Linked DNA regions of Homo sapiens: region 2 is linked to region 1. The links come from fine-mapping of genetic effects on gene expression. Tissue or cell type: gastroesophageal junction. Region 1 holds a variant in brackets; the other region holds the start of a gene. All regions are shown on one strand. Distances are between the middles of the regions.

Region 1 (8,260 bases):
ATAGAATGATAAGATGATACACAGAATGATTGAAAACTTTCTAGATACTTTGGCAAGAGAAAGTCTTTCTCTATAACAGTCATAGAGGAATCAGGTCATCAATCGCACAGTCATTTGGGGGTGGCCTCACCAGCTTAGCAGCACTGACACCCATTTCGCTCTTAGTACATGCATGAAATAATTTAATTCACTTCAAGCAACTGATGTATCCTAATATGCCCTTGAGTTCCTGCCACCAAATGCCAAAAGTAAGTATTCAGGTTAGCAATGAATATTCTGAATAAGAAAATAATTCCATTTGCAATTGCATTGAAAAGAATAAGATAGGAATAAATTTAACAAAAGAAGTGCAACATATACTCTGAAAACATTATTGAAAGAAATTAAAGAAGACAAATAAATGGAAAGACATCCCATGTTCATGAATTGAAGGACAATATTACAATGGCAATATCCAAAGTTGACCTACAGATTCAACACAATCCCTACCAAAATGCCAGCTGCTTTTGTTGTTGTTGCTGTTGTTGCAGAAATTGGTGACCTGATCCTAAAATTCATATAAGAATGGAAGGGATCCACAACAGTGAAAAAGTTGGAGGACTCACGCTTCTGATTTTAAAACTTACTACAAATCTACAATAATCAAGATAGTATATACCGGCCTAATAATAGGTAAATCAATAGAATAAAACTGAGGGTCAAGAAATAAACTCTCGGGCCAGGCGCAGTGGCTCACGCCTGTAATCCCAGCACTTTGGGAGGCCGAAGTGGGTGGATCACCTGAGATCAGGAGTTCGAGACCAGCCTTATCAACATGGAGAAACCCCGTCTCTACTAAAGATACAAAATTAGCTGGGCATGGTGGCGTGTGCCTGTAATCCCAGCTATTTGGGAGGCTGAGACAGGAGAATCGCTTGAACCTGTGAGGCGGAGATTTCAGTGAGCCGAGATCACGCCACTGCACTCCAGCCTGGGCATACAGAGCAAGACTCCGTCTCAAAAAAAAAAAAAAAAAAAAAAAAAAGAAATAAACTCTCCTGTTTATGTTCAATTGGTTTTTAACAAGAATGCCAAAACAATGGAGAAAGAATGAGGCTGGAACAACTTGATAGCCACATGAAAACCCCTTCTTGACACATGTACAAAATTAACTTCAGCCGGGCTCGGTGGCTCACACCTGTAATCCCGGCATTTGGGAGACTGAGATGGGCAGGTCACCTGAGGTCAGGATTTTGAGACCAGCCTTATCAACATGGCAAAGCCCCATCTCTATTAAATATACAAGAATTAGTCAGGCATGGTGGCAGGTGCCTGTAATCCCAGCTACATTGGAGGCTGAGGCACGAAAATTGGTTGAGCCTGGGAGGCAGAGGTTGTGGTCAGCTGAGATCGTGCCACTGTACACTGTACTCCAGCCTGGGGAACAGAGTGAGACTCCATCTCCAAAAAAAAAACCAAACAAACAAAACAAAACAAAACAAAAATTAACTTCAAATGGATCACAGATTTATGCATAAGAGATAAAATTGTAAAACTCTTAAAACATACAAGGCCAGGCACAGTGGCTTACGCCTGTAATCTCAGCCCTTTGGGAGGCTTAAGTGGGAGGATTGCTTGAGGCCCAGAGTTCAAGACCAGCCTGGGAGTGATGGCTTTGATCAACATAGCAAGATCTCGGCTGTACAAAAAACAAGAAAACAGGAGTAAATCTTTGTGACTTTAAGTTAGACAAAGCCTTCTTACATATGATGCCAAAAGCAAAAGTGACAAAAGAAAAAATGCATACTTTGGACTTCATCAAAATTAAAAACCTTTGTGCTTCAAATGTCACCATCAAGAAAGTGAAAAGAATTTTGATAGTGAAGGAGGCTGTGTGGTGGGGAGGGAGCATATGGAAACTCTCTCGATTTTCTGCTCAATTTTTATGTGAACCTATAACTGCTCTAAAAAAAAAGTCTATTTTTTCTGAAAGAAAAAGCCTATTCTTTTTTTTAAAAAAAGTGAAAAGACAACCCACAAAATGGAAGAAAATATTTGCAAATCATATAAGTGTAAGGGACTTGTCTCTTGAATCTATAAAGAACTCTTACAACACAAAAAAGAAAGACAACTCAATTAAAAAAGATCTGAAAAAACATTTCTCCAAAGAAGATATATGAACGTCCAAGAAGCACAGGAAAAGGTGCTCAACATCATTAATCACTGGGGAAGTACAAATCAAAACCATAATGAGATATCATTTCATATCCACTGGGAGGGCTGTAATCAAAAGGGCAGACAATAATAAGCCCTGGTGAGGAGAAACTGGAACCCTTCTACACTGCTGGTGAAAATGTAAAATGGAAAACTTTGGAAAACAGTTTGGCAGTTCCTCAAAAAGTTAAACATAGAGTTACCATATGACTCGAGAGAACTGAAAACACATTTCCACATAAAAACTTGTACACAAATATACATAGAAGTTTTATTCATAATAGCCCAAAATTCACATATCCATCAACTGATGAATGGATTAAAAATGTGGCATATCCAGGCCGGGCACAGTGGCTCACTCCTGTAATCCCAGCACTTTGGGAGACCGAGGCGGATGGATCATGAGGTCAGATCGAGATCATACTGGCTAACACAGTGAAACCCGTCTCTACTAAAAATACAAAAAATTAGCAAGGTGTGGTGGCACGTGCCTGTAGTCCCAGCTATTGGGGAGGCTGAGGCAGGAGAATTGCTTGAACCCAGGAGGCAGAGGTTGCAGTGAGCCGAGATCGTGCCACTGCACTCCAGCCTGGGTGACAGAGCGAAACTCAGTCTCGAAAAAAAAAAAAAAAAAGAAAAGAAAAAAGAAAAAAAAATGTGGCATATAAATACAACGGAATATTATTCAGCAATAAAAAGAAATGAATTACCAATACATGCTACAACACAGATGAACTTTGAAAACACTGTGCTTGCCTCAGCAGCAAATATACCAAAATTGGAATGATACAGAGATTAGCATGGCTCCTGTGCAAGGATTACAGGCAAATTCGTGAAATGTTCCATGTTCAAAATAAAAGAAAAAGAAAACATTATGCTAAGTGAAAGAAGCCCACATGGTGTATTTCGTTTATATGAAATGTCCAACTCTAAGTAAACCCTTACAGCAGCAAGTACAGTAGTGATTGCTCGACTGGGAATGGGTACAAGGTTGCTTTTGGGGTGATGAAAATGTCCTAAATTGATTGTAATGGTGAGCATACAACCCTGTGAGCATACAACAACAACATTGAGGTGTACACTGTAAATGGTTGAATTATATGGTATATGAATTCTATTTCAATAAGTTTGTTTTTGTTTTTATTTTTGTTTTGAGACAGAGTCTCGCTCTGTTACCCAGGCTGGAGTGCAGTGGTGCGATCTCAGTTCACTGCAACCACCGCCTTCCAGGTTCAAGGGATTCTCCTGCCTCAGCCTCCAGAGTAGATGGGATTACAGGCGCGTGCCACCATGCCCAGCTAATTTTTGTATTTTTTTTTTTAAGTAGAGATGGAGTTTTGCCATGTTGGTCAGGCTGGTCTCAAACTCCTGACCTCAGGTGATCCACTTTCCTTGGCCTCCCAAAGTGCTAGGATTACAGGCATGAGCCACCGCACCCAGCCAGAAGTCTGTTTTTTAAAAAATGAAACTTTGCGAATGAAAGGGTCAGAACGAGGACTGGAGAATCTATTTTTCAGTGAAGCTGGAAAAACAGAAGCAACATATAAAAATATTCACATACTAGAAAAGAAGCAGTCTATGTGTGTAAGCACAATCTGATAAGAAACACAGCCCTGCCTCCCAAAAACTCAGAGACCAAAGGCTTGGGACTAATCTCACAGACAATTCACAATCCTTGCTCCCCTCAAACAGAGGAGGCAGGAGATCTGGATTCTTCGGTGATCTGCCCACTACAGGAACTGAGTTCTGCCTGCACCACCAGCCAAGCAGAACCCAGGGCTTTCCCACTGCTTTCTGACTGGCATCGCTTCTGCCAGCTCTTCCTTTCCTTATTTGTCAGTAAACGATGGTGACAATATAATTTCAGTTTTTACTGCTTCAAAGCCGGCCATTTAATGAGTAACATTTGTAAAAGCCTTCTAAATTTTCATTGTTTCTGTTTTTGAAAAAATATTAGTATTATTTAAAAGTTTCTTAACAGAGGCAAGAAAAACACTGCAGATTCAGACTCTTGGAGGTCCTTATGTCAAAGGCATTCAAACCAGAGTGACTCCACCTTGAATAGGGGCTGGGTAAAATGAGGATTCAACTTGCTACCTTTTTTTTTTTTTTTTTGAGATGAAGTTTCATTGTTGTTGCCTAGGCTGGAGTACAATGGCACAATCTCAGCTCACTGCAACCTCTGCTTCCCGGGTTCAAGTGATTCTCCTCCCTCAGCCTCCCAAGTAGCTGGGATTACAGGTGCCTGGCTAATTTTTGGTATTTTTAGTAGAGACGGGGGTTTCACCACGTTGGCCAGGCTGGTCTTGAACTTCTGACCTCAGGTGATACACCTGCCTTGGCCTCCTGGGATTGGCCTCCTGAGATTACAGGCATGAGCCACCGTGCCTGGCCGCTACCTTTTGTTAAATTTCGATTTTGGATTCTCTGTCCTTTATTTTGGGTAGATGGGAAAGTGGCCATA[A/T]GACCTCTGGCTTGGGAGCCTGACTGCAGCCTCCCATTGTCTGGGTGCCCCAGATGGGAGCACACCTGGAAGGCCACTTCCTTAGTAGCCCACCCTGTCACCCCTTCTCTCTGACATTTTCTCTTTAGTTTCTAACAATTGGCCATTTTACTTTTCTGCTCTTACTGTCAAATTGCATGCTTATCCTTTTTTCTTTGTCACGTTTGTAGTTTTTCCTTTGGATAGTTGAGCAATTGGTTAAAGCAAGACACTTGGTTGTGAGTGGTCCCCCACTGTGTTGATCCTGGGATGCCAGAGTCATGTTGTACTGTGGCCCCCAACTGTGTTAGGTCTCATGCCTTTGGGGTTCACTGTTGGACACTCCCAAGATGCTCTGGGGTTTTCAGCACTTGGTACTGTTTGTCATCCATGCCAGATGCTCTGGGGTGTTCGGAATTGGCATTCCCTCTAGAATTGTGGGTTAGAGTCCCACCCTAGGGGAATCCCGGTCTTGCTTTTTCTTGTTTTCTACCCTAAAGTTATCATTTTCTGTAACAGCATTTTCTTGTCTTGTCACTTGACTTAATGTTTCGATGCAGGAGGTGAGAATTTGCAGTGGGAGACAACCGGATAGAAAGACAGATAGAAAAAGTTCTATGTCTAGTAAAGATCCTTGTTAGACATGGGGACAATAGTCCTGAAGGACTTGCTACTAAGGTGCCTTTTAAGCAACTGGAGCAAATTCAAATTAGCAAACAAAGTTTAGCCATGTGGACAAGTCCCGATTTTGTCAGAGAAATAATTTGGGGCTGGGTACAGTGGCTCTTGCCTGTAATCCTAGCACTTAGGGAGGTTGAGGCGGGCGGATCACAAGGTCAGGAGTTTGAGACCAGCCTGACCAACATGCTGAAACCTCATCTCTACTAAAAATACAAAAATTAGCCGGGCGTGGTGGCAAGCGTCTATAATCCTAGCTAATCAGGAGGCTGAGGCAGGAGGATTGCTTGAACCCAGGAGGCGGAGGTTGCAGTGAGCAGAGATTGTACCATTACACTCCAGCCTGGATGACAGAGTGAGACTCCATCTCAAAAACAAAAAAAAAAAAGAAAAGAAATAATTTGGATCTAGCTATCTTTTATGAAACGGTGAGTTTGTATTACTATCTCATGACTAGAGTTTCAAGATAAAAGCTATTGGATCTTTATGTGTGTGCATACATGTCTAGCTGTGTTTACGTGTATTTACATTTATTATGTTATATATTGTTTACAGGGTAACAAATTGACTTATAAGTAAAAGAGCACTCATAAATTAAGTAAATAAGTCCAAGCATTTTTCAAGTTCATTTAATTTAAACTCATTAAAATTTAGGATTACTAAAAATTCATATATAATTCTGTATGTAAAATGTGCCAAAGAAGATATGCTGCTATTGAAAAAAATTTTTTTTTTTTGCCAATTCAGATGTTATTTAAAGTGGGGTTTAAAATGTGGATTTAGGAAGAAAATAGAAACAAGATAGAAAGAAAAAAAACAGTAAGTAGGGGAAAGAGATGAGTAGAAAGTTATGGATATGAAGATGTATTTTTGATAAGGAAGGCTATAAAGAAAAGAAATTTTATGTGAGAAAGGATCTTGTATGGTAAATTCTTGTCCTAAAGTAGAATGACTGATTATTTAGGAAAGAAGAAAGTATAGGACAAGTCAAAAGGTCCAAGCATGTCATAGGTGGTCTATGTAAGTCATGATAAAGTTCATAAAAGATAACTTATTAAACTTTTTTATATAATTAAATAAACTACAATGAAAGAAAATTAATTTATAACAGTCTATCTAAATTTTGGTCCCCTATGTTAAAACACGTTTTTTAAAGTATTGGTTTGCTTTCAGTAAGACTGAAAGAAATACTGGCTTTTAATTCTAAAATCTGTTTTCTTTTCCCTTGAAAAGGTATGTTCTTCACAAGCTCAAAAATGGCTGCTCTAGACTCCTGGGAAAAACAATATGGTGCTTACCTTCTGCTGTAGCTCAGTAGCTAAGGCTTTGCTCTTTTGTGATGGTGGCCTGGGTTAAATTCCTGGCTTAGGGAATGAATTCCTTTTGATTTGACAGTTGTGGGACTTTTGCCATTTATTTATTCTTTTTCCCTCTATGGGCAGCTTCTGATTTCCTGACTTGAATTTTCTTTTCTCTGAGCTACCTTAGGTGTGATTCTAGATCTTATAAAAACTGCTTGCCATCTCTTTGGAGACACCTTGTGCATCCATGGTTAAATCATAACCTTCGTTAAGGCTTTTTTTGTTTTACCTGGAAAAATACCTTTGAGGGGGGAAAAAAGGGCTTAAAAGCCAGAGGTGTCAGCTGCTTGTCCTGGCTAAAGTTTAATGATAAAAGATTTAAAAACTTTCTTTTTTTTTTTGAGATGGAGTCTTGCTCTGTCACCCAGGCTGGAGTGTAGTGGCACCATCTCAGCTCACTGCAACCTCTACCTCCCGGGTTCAAGTGATTCTGGTGCCTCAGCCTCCCGAGTAGCTGGGACTATAGGTGTGTGCCACCAGACCCAACTAATTTTTGTATTTTTAGTAGACAAAGGGTTTTACCATGTTGGCCAGGCTGGTCCCGAACTTCTGACCTCAGGTGATCTGCCCGCCTCAGCCTCCCAAAGTGCTGGGATTACAGGTGTGAGCCACCGCACCTGACCCAAAAGGACTTTTTTTAAAAGTGCTCTATGGTTAAAAATCAGCTTAATTAAAAACAGATACCCAACGTATTAGTCCATTTTACACAGCCGAGACTGGGTAATTTATAAAGAAAAGAGGTTTAATTGACTCATGGCTCTGCAGGCTGGGGAGGCCCCAGGAAACTTACAATCATGGTGGAAGGGGAAGAGGCATGTCTTACATGACAGCAGGCAAAGAGAGAGCAAGCAAGAGCAGGGAAAACTGTCTTATAAAACCATCAGATCTTAAGAGAACTCACTCACTTAACTCACTCACTATCCTAACAACAGCATGGGGGAAAACATCCCTATGATCCAGTCACCTCCTACCTGGTCCTTTCCTTAATACATGGCGATTATGGGGATTACAATTCAAGATGAGATTTGGGTGGGGGCACAGAGCCAAACCATATCACCCAAATTTTATATATATATATAAATTAAAGGGCTTTATGCCTTTTCTTGGATCTTATTTTTTTGGTTTGTTTTTCTTCTCAGTCAACTGAATTATTTCTCCTGTCCGTTTTCTTGCTACCCTTGATGCTCACATGAGAGGACCTATGGTAATTTCTGACAGCCTGGGACTCCTTGGGAGAAAAATAGAAGATGTCACAGATCCTGTTTTGGAAGAAAAAGCTGTTTTCCTCATGGAACTCCAAGAATTGTAAGTAGACAGGTCCCTCTCAAAATCTAAGGCTCTGCTCTGTTTTGCATCACATTACTTTATCTTTTTTTTTACTTTTGGGGGTATCAGAAATTATTTTGCATTATGAGAGAACTTTTAGCCTTGGTGTATAACAGCTAGGTAGGACATATACTTTTAGGAATAGCTGATGGCAGTTGCTTACAGTGAGTGGTTATTACTACAGGCCAATACTTCTTTCTTCTCATATTTAAATGAAAAA
Region 2 (8,000 bases), 330 kb before region 1:
CCTGGGCAACATGGCAAAACCCTGTCTCTACAATAAAAAAAAAAAAAAATTAGCTGGGTGTAGTGGCATGTGCCTGTAGTCCCAGCTACTAGGGAGGCTGAGGTGGGAAGATCACTTGAGCGCAGAAGGTTGAGGCTGCAGTGAGCTGTGACTGCGCCACTGTACTCCTGCCTGGGCAAACAAGTGAGACCCTGTCTCATAAAACAAAAACAAAAATTTTAAACTCAAATCCAGACCATATTTCATACATAGCAAACACAACATTTAACAACTATCATTGTATTGTACATCTTAAAATCATATGGGTAAATTATTTGACTTGAGATAGGTTAGTGCTAGTGAGCGCTCAGGTGAGGCTAGATGGGGGTTTGGAAGAATCCCCCTTAAAATTGTCTCTCTCATAGGACGGCACACAAAAGGTGCAGAACAATATCTTTCACATGTGGCGATACTACAACTTTGCCCGGATGAGGAAAATGGCTGACTTTTTCCTTATCCAATCAAACTATAACTACGTGAACTGGTGGTCGACAGCCCAGAGCCTTGTTATTATTCTTTCTGGGATCCTGCAACTGTATTTCTTGAAGCGTCTCTTCAATGTTCCAACAACTACAGATACAAAGAAGCCAAGATGCTAAGCTAAGGTGACTATAGCACCCTGGCTGTTTTCTTCTGGGGCTTAGTCGAATCAGCTTTGTAATGTTATGGGACAAAAATCAATTATCTCATTAATGTTTTAGTCTGCTGCACACATCTAAAAAAGCAAAATGGCAATAAAATCATAACAGTGAAAAAGTTCTGAAGAAGTATGTATTAAATGTATGCATCAAAATACTGTTCATCATATAGCAGTCCCTTAGCCTTCACTGAGTCTACTTAGAGGCTAACAGAAAACCTTAGAAGGAAGATGAGTTGAAAAAGGCCACAATCAAGTTTGCTTACATATAAAAGCAGGAGTTGGTAATGTTTTATTCTTAAAGACTTCACCTTTGGAACTTAAAATAAGCAATATATTCATTAAAGAAATAGTTTAATTTTGCAATACAGATAGTCTTTAAATTTTTTGTCTATAAAATATTTAAAGAAATATTCTAAGGATCTTAAAGTAACTTTGGGAGGCACGGGGAAGGACAAAGGGACTGAATTTTTATGTCGTGGCCTCTGATCAGTGCTTTTAGTCCAATCCAGTCAAGTAAGTAAAGGTTCATAGAAAAAATTGTTTTATAAAATCATAGTGATGAAAAAAACTTTCCAGCCTAGCGTCATCCCATCCAAGAAAAATACTGAGAAAACAGCTTGTAAAAAAGAAGGTAATAAAATCAAATTATACTCATAAAACTCTACACTTAATAACAGGAATACATAATATATATAATATAAAAATAATTACCATTTATTCCATACCTATCATTTCCAAGGCACTGTACACTGTACTAGATGCTTTACAATCAGATGGAGTCTCACTCTGTCACGCCCAGGCTGGAGTGCAATGGCACCATCTTGGCTCACTGCAAGCTCTGCTTCCCCAGTTCAAGCCATTCTCCTGCCTCAGCCTCCCAAGTAACTAGGACCACAGCCATGTGTCACCACACCTAATTTTTTTTTTTTTTTTAGTAGAGATGGGGTTTCACCATGTTGGCCAGGCTGGTCTCAAACTCCTAACCTCAAGTGATCCGTCCGCCTTGGCCTCCCAAAGTGCTGGGATTACAGGCGCGAGCCACTGTGCCCAGCCTACAATCATGATTTCTAATTCCAAAAATCAGACTTTCTAATTCTCAGGTAGATGGCCAAAGCTGATTTTCAAGTTTTGTGTCTTTTTAAACAGAAGAAAATGAACCTTATTAAAGCTGAATGACTCATTCAAGGCCATATAGCTGGTAGGTGGCAGAAGTGGGGTTTGAACCCGTTTTTCTTCTATACCACACACCAATTACTGTATAGAAAAATAGCTGAATTGCTCCTATTAGCCAAATTTCATTTTTAAAACCCCACATGTGGTTTATTATTCTGTTATGGCAATGTCTATGTTGCATATTAATAAAAAAGAAAATCCTTGTGTTTAGAAAACAGTGTTATCACAGATAACAATAAGCTATTCTTGTTCCTGGTTCCAATGATTTTGAACCTATTTCTCAGAACAAGAAGCCCTCTGATTCAAATATGAAACAGTATTCTATTTCGTCACAAAGATCTGAAACCCCATTTTTGAGCCATCTCTGTATATAATAAGAATCCAGCCTGCATTTGTCAGTGATAGAGAGTACAGTAAATAAGAAGTCCCTGAAGAGGCCAGAGTGTTGACAAAATTCAACATGATGGTGGAGTCCACACAAACACAGGAAACAAAGCTCGGCCTTTCCATACAGCCGTCTGTCCTTGGAATGGCTTCGTTTTAAGTCAACGTCTCTTCATGCCGCACATATTCCCCAATGTCTGCTTGATGAAATACCACAATCGCCATGGGGTCTACTTTTCTGCAGTCTTGTGTAGATTTGGCTGCCACCCCAAAACCCTGGGATTCAAAAGAAGAGACACTAACTCACTGAAGTCATTCAATATGCCCATATTGAGGGCTGGAAATAACAAAGACGGAAAAAATACAGTTCTGGTCTTTCTGGGATTCAAAACGTGCTGAGAATTTATTCTCTCAAGCACTCAGATTGAAGACATACCCTTCTTGAATAAGAGTACTTGAGTTCTGTAACAGCTACCATCTCTACTCACCAAAGGGATGTCTGCCATGGAGTACACCACCACGCCCTGGTACTGAGAAGTATTTTCAGTGATTCGACCCAGACCAGATTTCAACACATGGTTCCCATACAGGAAGGACTGCTCTGCACCAGGCTTTATCCAAACTTTATACTATAAGAGAATTAAAATCCAAGAGACATAAAAACGTTACTATTTCTATCCATGCAGACAAGCTAGCTGCTGGATCTGTGAATAATTTTCTGAAATAATTTTAAGGGAAACAGAGAGACTCATGTTTTCCTCAAACTGTCTATCTCCTGAACAGAAATGCAGGAAGTTGCCCGGTGCAGTGGCTCACGCTTGTAATCCCAGCACTTTGGGAGGCCAAGGCAGGTGGATCACTTGAGGCCAGGAGTTCGAGACCAGCCTGGCCAACACAGTGAAACACTGTCTCTACTAAAAACACACAAAAAAATCAGCCAGGTGTGGTGGCACATGCCTGTAATCCCAGCTACTGAGGCACAAGAATCACTGGAAACTGGAAAGTGGAGGCTGCAGTGAGATCGCACCACTGCACTCTAGCCTGGGCGACAGAGTGAAACTGTGTCAGGAAGAAAGAGAAAGAGAAATGAAAAGAAAAAACAGAGCAAGAAAGAAAAAGAAAAAAATAGAAAAAGTTATTTTCTCAACTCTACAAGGATCATCCTCCATGGCCAGGTTAACAGCTCTTTTTCTGGACCCCGGTGTCTTCATTGCTGCCACTTATTTGCTTTCTGATCTCTAGCTGGGTCTCCCTAGGCTCTTCTACTTCGCTGGAGAAAACTAACCCTACGCAGCCACATAGCATTCCTATCCCATAGCCCTGACCATGCTCAAGCTGCAAGACCTCTACACATCTCCATGTGCTGAAACTCCTCCAAGCACACTGTCAGGGACTCTGTGGGAGAGAAGCTGCCGGACAATCTGCCTAATCCTTGACTTCATCGCCCGTGGCAGAATTGGAAACCGCCCCACAAACCTTGGCATAAGGTGCAAGGTAATCCAGAGCTGTGACGTGCAACCGAAACTTGTGGGTTTTAGTGAATTTTCCAAAGCAGGTCCCCAGCGACACCAGCTTGTCCCCGGAAATATTGGCGGCCAGCTTCATAATCTTCTCACTAAAAGGGTAAAGGGGGAGCAAGGTTGCGGATGAAGGAGGCTCGTGGGACCCAGGACCCCTCTCCCCTGGGTCCATGCTGCCTGCCCGGCCCCGCCTCACCTCACATAGTACACCCGGTCGTTGTGCAGACGGAAACAGTAGGTGCCATCGGGCCGGTCCACCAGCAGTTGAAGATTCTCCCCAATGCTGAGGGCAAAAAGAGGACTGGAGACCGCGCCCGAACGAACCGGTCTCCGGCACCGCGCCCCCACTCCACCCTTGGCCACCACACCCACACACTCCCGCGTCCGCCCCGCGCGCTCCTACTATTTCGCTATCTTCTCAAACATGACACGGGTCTCCTCTTCAGTCAAAGGCCGCATTTTTCCCCCTGGGTTGGAACACCGGATCCTCGTGCCTTGGTAACTGGAAACGGAAGTCGGTCGCTCGCTGCTCCCCGGCAATCCCAAAGCCTTCCTCTCTAGCCCCGTACCAATAGTTCGTCTCGCTAGCGCCCAATAGTCTGGACGACCGCAGGGGAAAGCAAGCCGGCCGGATGAGAAAGCATAGAGACCGGAAATGTGCCTGTTTCTTCCTGTCCTAAGTTCGGAGTCAGCGCCCCTTGTGGTCCGGAAGGGAAGTGACGTTGTTGCTGGGAAGATGGCGACCGCGGCGACTATCCCATCGGTAGCCACGGCCACAGCAGCGGCTCTCGGCGAGGTGGAGGATGAAGGGCTCCTGGCGTCGCTGTTCCGGGACCGCTTCCCCGAGGCCCAGTGGCGCGAGCGGCCCGATGTGGGCCGCTACCTCCGGGAGTTGAGCGGCTCGGGGCTGGAGCGGCTGCGGCGCGAGCCCGAGCGCCTGGCGGAGGAGCGGGCGCAGCTGCTGCAGCAGACGCGCGACTTGGCCTTCGCTAACTACAAGACCTTCATCCGCGGCGCCGAGTGCACCGAGCGCATCCACCGCCTGTTTGGCGACGTGGAGGCGTCGCTCGGCCGCCTGCTCGACCGTTTGCCCAGCTTCCAGCAGAGCTGCAGGTGCGACGCGCCTGGCGCTAAAGGGGTTTTATAACTGTAAAAGCTGACATTTACGATGGTAGAAATAACTAACACATAAAGCGTTTACCACGTTCCAGGTTCTCTGCTGAGCGCTTTATTAATCCATTTAAACCTCACAACAGCCTTCGAGATAGGTACTGTTATTCCTTTTTTATCTTTTTTGAGACGGAGTCTCGCCCTGTCGCCAGGCTGGAGTGCAGTGGCGAGATCTCGGCTCGCTGCAACCTACCTCTGCCTCCTGGGTTCAAGCGATTCTCCTGCCTCAGCCTCCTGAGTAGCAGGGACCATAGGCGCGCGCCACCACGCCCAGCTAATTTTTTTGGATTTTTAGTAGAGACGGGGTTTCAGCATGTTGGCTGGGATGGTCTCGATCTTTTGATGTCGTGATCTGTCCGCCTCGGCCTCCCAAAGCGCTGGGATTACAGGCATAATCCACTGCGCCCAGCCCTGTTATTTCCATTTTACATATGAGCAAGTCAAGACAGAGATTAGTGACGTCCAAGGACACAGCTAGGAGGTTTCGAATTCAGAACTGGTTACCCAGAAGCACGTCCCTCCCTCGAAGGGCAGTTGTGGGCACAAAGAAAAAGGATTCATGCAAAGCTCTTATTATCGGGTCTGACACAGTTAACATTATAGGTGTGAGCTGAATATATGTGCACATTTATATACTTATTTTATACGAAAGCGTGGACCGGAGGTCATCTGCTTCAAAACTTCCATTGACGGGAAGGTGACAAGGAAATCCTCGCATTTGAGGGCATCAGATATCAAAAAGTCTCTCCATTTGGATGGCTGGATGTGGTGGCTCAGCCTGTAATCCCAGCACTTTGGGAGCCTGAGGCTTGAACCCAGGAGTTCGAGAGCAGCCTGGCCAACATGGCAAAACCCTGTCTCTATAAAATAAAAAATTAGCTGGTCGTGGTGGCGTGCGCCTGTAGTCCCAGGTACACAGGAGGTTGAGGTGGGGGGGTCAGTTGGGCCCGGGAGATTGAGGCTGCAGTGAGCCATGATTGTGCCACCGCACTCCAGTTTGGGAGGTCGAGGCTGCGGTGGGCTGTGATTGTGCCACTGCATTCCAGACTGGGTGACAAAGTGAAACTCTCTTAAAAAAAGAAAAAAAGGCTGGGTGCGGTGGCTCACACCTGTAATCCCAGCACTTTGAGAGGCCAAGGCAGGCGGATCACGAGGTCAAGAGATCGAGGCCATCCTGGCTAACATGCTGAAACCCCCATGTCTACTAAAAATACAATTAGCTGGGCGTGGTGGCACGCGCTTGTAGTCCCAGCTACTCGGGAGGCTGAGGCAGGAGAATTACTTGAACCTGAGAAGCGGAGGTTGCAGTGAGCCAAGATGATGCGTGCCACTGCACTCCAGCCTGGTGACAGAGCAAGACTCCGTCTCAAAAAAAAAAAAAAAAGTCCTTTGTGAGTCATATTCTGTCTCCATTATCCCTAGTTCTGCCTTCCAGCCTTTCATGATTAAAGTTTAATTTTTCTTTTGAGCCTTTGGATATTTGACAGCAGCTTTTGTACCCTTCCATGCTCCAGAATAGATAGGGGACTTGATAAAGCAGGTCTCTGCAAATATGGAGAAGTGTTGAAAGTAGACTGTGGCAGGAACTATGGTTGAACATTAGCATAGGAGAAGATGAAGACCTGAGGGGAAAGATTGTGGATTCTAGGCAGTTAGTGCTTCATTTTGAAAATAATGATAGCTACTGTTAAATATTTAACTGTGTCTCTTTTACTATTTTTACTTTGACGCATTCGCTCTGTTTCAAGTTCTATGTTAAATGCTTCACACACATCATCTCATTTAGTTCTTACACCCTTATGAGGAGGGTCCTATATACTTTTTTTTTTTTTTTTTTTGAGACGGAGTCTTGCTTTGTTGGCCAGGCTGCAGTGCAGTGGCGCCATCTCTGCTCACCGCAACCTCCACCTCCTGGGTTCAAGTGATTCTCCTGCCTCAGCCTCCTGAGTAGCTGGGACTACAGGCGCGCACCACCATGCCTGGCTAATTTTTTGTATTTTTAGTAGAGATGGGGTTTCACTTGAACTCCTGGCCTCAAGTGATCCGCCCACCTCAGCCTCCCAAAGTGCTGGGATTACAGGCGTGAGCCACTGCGCCTGGCCCTATATACCGTTTTACTAATGAGGAAATAGGTTCAGAGAGGCCAAGTACCTTGCCACAGCCAGCAAGTGGCATATCTGGATCTCCATCTGTTAGATTTATTAATTGTATGTTTTTGGACAAGTTGCTTAACCTCTCTGGGATTAAAAATTTCCTCAATTGTAATAATACTTACCTTATAGGTGGGGTGTGAGGAATAAATCAGATAGATCATCCAGCCCAATGTTCATAGCAGGTACTTGGTAACTGTAGCTAAGGTTTGGGTACAGAGCAGTGAAGGATCAACATTCTTCTGATTATTACTAGGAACTTTGTGAAGGAAGCCGAGGAGATCAGCTCCAACCGCCGGATGAATAGCCTGACCCTAAACCGGCACACAGAAATTTTGGAAATACTGGAGATTCCTCAGCTCATGGACACCTGTGTCCGGAACAGTTATTATGAAGAGGCCCTGGAGCTTGCAGCCTACGTACGCCGACTGGAGAGGAAATACTCTTCCATCCCTGTCATCCAGGTAGCCACCTTGCCCAGAGAGGACTCAAAGTAATGTTCTTGTAATCATTTATTCTGTGGTCAGGACTGAAGCTTTAGGTAGAAACTCTTGCATGTTTCACATCAGTTTCTGCCAGCCAGGTATGCCTGAACAGAAAACATTCATTTATTCAAAATACATATTAATCATGTGCCAAGCACTGCTCTATATGCTGGGGATACAGTGTGAATAAAGTGGTCCTGGCTCTCATGCAGCTTACGTGCTAATGGGAAGTCTGATAATTGACAAAGAAATGATATCATTTCAGATAGTGGTGTCTGAAGAAAAAAACAGGGAATGGGGTAAGGGAGTCTAGGGTAGGTTTCTTTAGGTAGGGTGATCAAGAAGGACTCTTCTAGGGAGGTAACATTTAAGCTGAGACCTAAATGAGAAGGAGGTGCCAGCCCACAAAGATCTGGGGAGAGAGCAAACCAGAAAGTGT

What was found. PIP is the estimated chance that this variant, and not a neighbour inherited with it, causes the effect.
Region 2: it holds the start of COG8, and the variant in region 1 is fine-mapped to the expression of COG8 in gastroesophageal junction (GTEx, PIP 0.99).

The regions. Positions count from the first base shown.
Region 1 is chr16:69,001,837-69,010,096 of GRCh38, reverse strand. All of the region lies in intron 15 of TANGO6 (transport and golgi organization 6 homolog), which reads right to left. It also overlaps the pseudogene RNU6-898P. Among named protein-coding and RNA genes, the nearest start is that of HAS3, 100 kb to the left of the region's middle. The variant A/T (reference allele first, on the strand shown) is at 4,658.
Region 2 is chr16:69,336,045-69,344,044 of GRCh38, reverse strand. It overlaps COG8 (component of oligomeric golgi complex 8), which reads left to right and starts at 4,481. Exons shown (of 6, transcript NM_032382.5): 1 at 4,481-4,869; 2 at 7,333-7,540. The coding sequence starts at 4,493. It overlaps NIP7 (nucleolar pre-rRNA processing protein NIP7), which reads right to left and starts at 4,273. Exons shown (of 5, transcript NM_016101.5): 1 at 4,160-4,273; 2 at 3,953-4,039; 3 at 3,713-3,851; 4 at 2,725-2,865; 5 at 939-2,512. The coding sequence starts at 4,215. The coding sequence ends at 2,393. TMED6 (transmembrane p24 trafficking protein 6) reads left to right here. Exons shown (of 4, transcript NM_144676.4): 4 at 405-795. The coding sequence ends at 638. RefSeq lists enhancers at 3,895-3,974, 4,155-4,274 and silencers at 4,695-4,744, 4,755-4,804.